Homo sapiens: one gene and its partner. The protein of the gene in region 2 purifies or fractionates together with the protein of the main gene of each other region. This does not show direct contact. Each region holds a gene or a part of one and is shown on either strand. Other genes may lie near its edges.

Evidence for each region. The genes of interacting proteins can lie anywhere in the genome.
Region 1: the proteins of TP53RK (region 2) and NUP43 purify together in Homo sapiens (affinity purification with mass spectrometry; 5 studies listed by BioGRID and IntAct, with this or other methods). This does not show direct contact.

The regions. Positions count from the first base shown.
Region 1 is NC_000006.12:149,732,865-149,736,617, forward strand, and holds part of NUP43 (nucleoporin Nup43), read right to left. Parts: coding exon 3,607-3,753; intron 1-3,606. UniProt on the Homo sapiens protein: Component of the Nup107-160 subcomplex of the nuclear pore complex (NPC). The Nup107-160 subcomplex is required for the assembly of a functional NPC.
Region 2 is NC_000020.11:46,687,811-46,691,563, forward strand, and holds the start of TP53RK (EKC/KEOPS complex subunit TP53RK), read right to left. Parts: upstream 1,635-3,753; 5' UTR 1,605-1,634; coding exon 1,322-1,604; intron 1-1,321.

The DNA of each region.
Region 1 (3,753 bases), on a different chromosome or scaffold from region 2:
CATTGCTAAAACATTTAACCCTATTACTTTATGAAAAAGCTTATTTTATTTTATTTTTATTTTTTTAAATAGAGACAGGGTTTTGCTATGTTGTCTACCTTGGTCTTCTACTCCTGGCGTCAAGCAATCCTCCTGCCTCAGCCTCCCAAAAGTGCTGGAATTATAGGTGTGTGCCCAGCTAGGAATGACTGTCTTTTACGGAAAAGTTTTTTTTTAAATTGGTAAGTTGTCTTATTTTTCAATTCCTGTGTCATTAATATATGAAGATTATATTATTGGAAAAACTGAGAAAGATCCTAATGAAATATAAAAATGAATTTCTAAGAGGCAATATCCAATATTGGTTAATGCCAAGATTCTGAATACTTCTGGTCTTTATCACAGAAATAGCAACTGACTTCTACCAAACCAAAATTTGGAAATGTTCCAAGAATTTGGATCCAGTCTCAGATGGAGGGCTTTTTATTTTTTATTTGTTGATTATTTATCAAGAAAAACTATTTCTTAGCCCACATATGTATGCTTCATACTTTAGGAACATAGGTCAGTGACAAACTTCTACATAATTCAACTCAAAGAAATTCTCTCTCTCTTTTTGAAACAGGGTCTTGCTCTGGCGCCCAGGCTGGAGTGCAGAATGGCATGGTCATGGCTCACTGCAGCCTTGACCTCCAAGGCTTAAGCAATCCGCCTATCTCAGCCTCCTGAGTAGCTAGGACTACAGGTATGTATCACCATACCTGGCTAACTTTTGTATTTTTAACAGACATGGGGTTTCTCCATGTTGCCCAGGCTGGTCTCAAACAACTGGGCTCAAGAGATCTGTTTGCCTTGGACTCCCAAAGTGCTAAAATTACAGGCATGAACTACCGTGCCCAGCCCCAAAGAAATTCTATATATTCCAAAATCACTTTCAATTCTGAAAGATACCAGTCTTCCTCATTTCCTCAAAATCTGTTTTGTTTTGTTTTTTTTTTGAGACGGAGTTTCACTCTTGTTGCCCAGGCTGGAGTGCAATGGTGCGATCTTGGCTCACCACAACCTCTGCCTCCCAGGTTCAAGTGACTGTCCTGCCTCTGCCTCCCTAGTAGCTGGGATTACAGGCATGTGCCACCACGCCCGGCTAATTTTGTATTTTTAGTAGCGACGGGCTTTCTCCATGTTGGTCAGGCTGGTCTCGAACTCCTGACCTCAGGTGATCCACCTGCCTCGGCCTCCCAAAGTGCTGGGATTACAAGCATAAGCCACCGCCCCCGGCCATCATTTCCTCAAAATCTTTTATGGAATCATAATTTCTATAGAAATCTAATAATAAAAAAAATTAGCTAGGTGTAGTGGCATATACCTGTAGTCCCAGCTACTCAGAAGGGCAAGGCAAGAGGATCACTTGACCCCAGGAGGTTGAGGCTTAAGTGAGGTACCATGCCACTGCACTCCAGCCTGGGCAACATATTGAGACCCTGTCTCTACAAAAAATAAAAAATTAGCCGGGTGTAGTAGGGGTGCGTGCCTGTAGCCTCAGCTACTCGGGAGGCTGAGGTGGGAGGACTGATTGAGCCAGGGAGGCAAGGCTGAGGCTGCAGTGGGCTGTGATCATGCCACTGCATTCCAACCTGGGTGAGAGAGACCCCATTTTTAAAAAAATATATAGGGCCGGGCGCAGTGGCTCACACCTGTAATCCCAGCACTTTGGGATGCCAAGGCAGGCAGATAACCTGAGGTCAGGAGTTTGAGACCAGCCTGGCCAACATGGTGAAACCCCATTCCTACTAAAAATACAAAAATTAGCTAGGCATGGTGGCAAATGCCTTTAGTCCCAGCTACTAGGGAGGCTGAGGCAGAAGAATGGCTTGAACCCAGGAGGCAGAGGTTTCAGTGAACCGCGATTGTGCCACTGCACTCCAGCCTGGGCGACAGAACAAGACTCTGTCTCAAAAAAAAAAAAAAAAAAGGATAATCCATTCTGGCATGATATCAAAGACAGAGTGAGAAAATGAAAAATTTCTGTCCGGCTAAATCATCTCCACCAGAATCAAAAGAAAAAAAAAAGCTTATAAATCTATTGTTCATGTTAAAAAAAATGATGTGATGCAACAATAAATTGAGGAGCACAACATTTATTAACAAATATGACAGCCTGCATTTGCATGGGAAAAGGGCATTCTTGCACACTTCACTATGGCATATAAAATGGTATGATTTTTATCACTTTTCAGGGAGTGGGGTCTCACTATATTGTCCAGGCTGGAGTGCATAGGTGCAATCATAATGCACTACAGCCTTGAATTCCTGGACTCAAGCAATCCTCCTGCCTCGGCCTCCTGAGAAGCTGGTGCATGCCACTCACCTGGATTAAACTAGTATTATTAACTTTTTAAAGAGGTTATGTTGCCTAAGCTGGCCTCAAACTCTCAGGCTCAAGCAATCTTCCTGCCTCAGGCTCCTGAGTAGGAGGAGCCTGGAACTACAGGCATGTGCCAATGTGCCTGGCTTAAACTGGTATTATTTTTGTGTAGAAAAATCTGTCAATGCGCTATGCAAAATGTTTGGCCTAGCAATTCTACTTCTAAAAAATTATCCTAAGAAAATAAGTACATAAGGCTGGGCATGGGCATAATGGCTATGCCCAGCACTTTGGGAGAATCGTGTAAGTCCAGGAGTTCAAGGCTGCAATGAGCTATGATCACACCACTACTGCACTCTGGCCTAGGCAACAGAGAGAGACCCTGTCTCCAAAAAAAAAAAAAAAAAAAAAACACACACAGAGATAAATATCTAAGGATTCTAACTACAGTTTTGGATATAAGAATTAAACCTGTGGTTGATGTGGTGGCTCATAACTCATACCTGTAATCTCAGCACTTCCTGAGGATCACTTGAGCCCAGGAGTTTGAGACCAGCCTGGGCAATAAAGTGAAACCCCATATCTACAAAAAAAAAAACAAACAACAACAAAAAATCAGCTAGGCATGGTGACACACACCTATAGTCCTATCTACTTGGGAGGCTGATGCGGGAGGATCACCTGAGCCCTGGAAGTCAAGGCTGTAGTGAGCCGTGACTGCACCACTGCACTCCAGCCTGGGCGACAGAACCAGACCCTGTCTCTTTAAAAAAAAAAAAAAAAAAAAAACCAGGCACGGCGGCTCATGCCTGTAATCCCAGCACTTTAGGAGGCCGAGCTGGGCAGATCACCTCAGGTCAGGAGTTCAAGACCAGCCTGACCAACATGGAGAAACCCAGTCTCTACTAAAAATATAAAATTAGCCAGGTGTGGTGGTGCATGCCTGTAATCCCAGCTACTCGGGAGGCTGAGGCAGGAGAATCGCTTGAACCCAGGAGGCAGAGGTTGCGGTGGGCCAAGATAGCGCCATTGCACTCCAGCCTGGGCAACAAGGGTGAATCTCCGTCTCCAAAAAAACAAAAACAAATGTTAAAGAACTTAAATGTCGAGTAAAAAGAAATTACATAACTATTTAAATTTACACAATTCAGCCATTAAAAGCTATGATGTAAAATGATCCACATGTATCATTATGGAAAGGTGCTTATTATATGTCATATAACTCACCCAATATAAACTTTCTGTATCTTCACAATACTTACTTTCAGCTTCATGAGCCTTCAGCAGAGATACAGGCATAGTACCTTGTCTAACATCCCAAATACTCAACATTCCATCTTGGCCACCAGTAGCTACAACATGCTGTTGGTTGGGATGTCTATCAACACAGTGGAGTGGCACTCGGTCAC
Region 2 (3,753 bases):
CAAAGAGCAAGGCACAGCCCAGTCAGAGCAGTTTCTACTGATGAGGACACAAACAGGAGGCCAAGCAGTGTGCTAGCTTCGAGGTTCATCTTCGTAGTCAGAGAGGACAGGGTTCAAATCCCAGCTGCTTTTCTTATTAGTTGTCTAATCTAATCTTAAAATTACATTAACTTCTCTAAGCCTCAGTTTCTGCTACTATACAAGGAACAATAGCTCCAATAAACTCAATGAATCTTTACTGAAAGTCAACCAGGCTCAGTATACTTTTCTAGAAACTGAGAGATGTTATCAATGGGGATACAGCAATAAACAAGCCAGCTATAATACAATCTCTGCTTAACGAAACAGATCATGAGGCTGAAAACAGAAATATGAATACACAAATAACTTCATGAAATCTTAAGTCTCTGAAAGGGCAGCAATGTGTCCGCTTGTTGGCTACTGAATATCCCCCACCCAGATCTCCCAGCACTTAACAATGTCCTGGTACCCACTGGTACCTAAAAAATACTGATAAAAGAAAGGCAAGAAGCGTAAAAGTAAAAAGCCAGGGCTTCTGAGTCAGAGGCATAAGGAGCTGAGGGCCTGGACCGGCCACTTAGTAACCGTGTAACCTTGGGCAAGTTACTTCTCTCTGAGTGTCACTTTCTCATCTGAGGACAAAGTTTATGGTGCTGGCGCACAATGATGTTTAATGAAAAAATAGGCAATTTAATGAAATCCAACATTTATTGGGCACTATGTGCCAGGCACACATTTGAACATAATACGTGACACACATACCTCCTCTAATGGTCACAACATCCCTATGACATGGATACTGCTACTATGTCTCCCATTTTACAGGTGAGAAAACCGAGGCTGAGAGGCTAAATAACTTGTTGAAAGGCTACACAAGCAGCAGAGTTAGTATTTCAACCCAGGGAGCCTGGCTCCAGTGGGGCAAGTACTTGTCATTACATGTTTCTTAAAACTAATAAATGGAAAGATAATGATCGAAAATTGAAACGAGTCAAATGGGGAAACCAAGGCTCAGGGAAGTTAAACATGTTCAACATTGAGCAATAATGACAGATCCCAGATTTGAACCAGGCAGAACGGCCTCAGGACAAAAGCTTGACGCTGCATGGCCACGTGGTTTCTTAAGACTTAACGAATGAAAAAAGGGATGAAAGAATAACATTTCCGAAAGGCCGGACACCGCAGAAGGCACAGAAGGAGAAACTGAGGGAAATCCAGCTTCGGAGCGCAGGGGAGTCCCTCACCCGCCCAGGCCCCAGAGCCTCGGGGCCGCCCACGCCGGGATCCCGGCCCACCTTACCAGCGCGGCGACAGCGGAGGAGCGCCCGGGCCTCCTGCACCGTCCGCCGTCTGCCAAGCCGCGCCTCCAGCGCCGGGTGCCGGTAGCCCTTGGGGAAGCGGTGCTTGATCACCGCCGCGCGGCCCTGGAAGCGGCCACGGAACACGCGCGCCTCGGCACCCTGCTTCACCAGCTCCAGGCCGCTCAAGAAGCGGCTGCTCCGCTCCCGGGCTGCGGCCAGAGCCTCAGCCTCCGGGGCGGGCTCCTCGCCATCGGCCGGCGTAGTAGCTCTGGCCGCCGCCATGACTGCTCGGCGCAACAGCTCCAACCGATCAGCTGTCTCTGAAAACTGTCGCGATGCTTCGGCTCGCTTCGGAAATCCTGGGACTTCTTCGGCAATCCTGGGACTTCTTCGGCTACCCGAATGCGTCCACCCCGGACACTTCCGGCCTGTAAGTGGTTACGCCTCCCAACTTTTCGGCTCTCTGAAGCCTGAGGTTCCCTGCAGGAAGGGCTCTTGTGGCCCCGCCTTCCGCCTCTTCGGCTATCTCCGTACACGTTCGGCAACGCTCAGTAAGTGGCTCTTCCCGACTCCTTGGCTCTCCGGAAATCTTCGGTGACTCTCGCAGCCGGCTTTGGGGGCCCACCTCTCAGTTGGTCGTCTCTTTCCGGAAAACTTCGGCGCCTCTCGAGAAAAACGTCGGACGCGCTTTGCTCTCTTCAGAAGTCTCTTCCGGGACAGCTGTACCCTCTAGTAGTCTCTTTTTGGAACTCCTCTTCCCCTGACTCCTACATTCCCCCCAAAATGTGCTCATACAAGTCAGAGTCGGAAGGGTCAGACAATGAACCATGTTTCCGACATCCTCTTAAGTGCTAGGATAACTACCATTTAGTGCATTCAGAAGAAATAAGGTTAAATGATGAAAATCCTTACAGAAAAGAAAATTGAGACTCAGAGCTGGCAGAGGGGGTGGTAAGATGGGGTGGGGAGTGGGGGCTGGGGAATCCGGGAAAGTCTTCCGGAGACAGAACCTAAACTGAATTGGGAATAATTAAACTTTTTCAGTTTCTACCTGTTTCATTACAAAGCTTATAATAACACAGGCTGTAGCAAATTCTTACAATACGGAACTTTGCACACGCACACATAAATAAATAAACTACCTATCCCCCTTGTGACACTGCTGGCCGTTAGTTTCTTTCCAGAATTTTCTTTCATTCAGTGTGCACACTCACACATCGTTGTGGCGTTTTTTCCAACATAAATGACATCATACTGTGGGTTCTTTGGCAACTTGCTTTTCATTTTCCTAAACAATTTATCTCAGACTATATTCCATATCAATACATACAGAGCTACCACGTCCTTCTACCTGGTCAGGCAGTTTCTTGTTGCTAAACAGTTGTTTCCAGTTTGTTGTTTCTCAGGAAAACACTTTACTTACTATTGCCAGTTTATTATAAAAGATAGTATAAAAGATAAAAATGAACAGCCAGATGAAGACGTACATAAGGAAAAGTAAAAATTGTACGTGTTTATCGTAAGTAACATGTTTTGAAATATGTATACATTGTGGAATGGCTAAATCCAGCTAGTTAACGTTACCTAACATACTGATCATTTCGGGGGTGAGGACACTTAAAATCTATTATCTTAGCATTTTTCAAGAATACAACCCATTGTTATTATCTATAGTCACCATGTCGTGCAATAGATTTCATGAATGTTTCCTCCTATCTAACTGAAATTTTGTATCCTTTGACCAACTTCTCAAAATCCTCCCTATCTCCCTCCCCCTACCCCACCGCCTGGTAACCACCATTCTACTCTGCTTGCATGAGTTCAACTTTTCTTACCTTCCTCATATAAGTGAGATCATGGGATATTTGTCTTTCTGTGCCTAGCTTATTTCATTTAACACAATATCCTCCTGTTCCATCCATGTTGCTGTAAATGACAGCATTCCATTCTTTTTAAAGGCTGAATAGTATCCCATTGTGTATATAAATGTACCATATTTTTATCCATTCATTTAGTGATGGACACTCAGATTGAGAATTGTGAATGATGCTGCAATTAACATGGGACTGCAGACATCTCTTCAATATACTGATTTTGTTTCCTTTGGATATGTACCCAGTAGTAGGGTTGCTGGATCATAAGGTAGTTCTATTTTTATTTTTTTTGAAGAACCTCCATACTGTTGTCCATAATGTCTGTACTAATTTACATTCCTATCAACAGGGTGCAACGGTTCCCTTTTCTCCACATCCTTGCCAACACTTATTATCTTTCTTATGTTTTAAAATAGCGATTCTAACAGGTCAGAGGTGATATCTCATTGTGGGTTTAATTTGCATTTCGCTGATGATTAGTGATGTTGAGCATTTTTTTTTAATATACCCGTTGTCCATTTTTATGTCTTCTTTTGAGAAAGATTTCTTTGGATCTT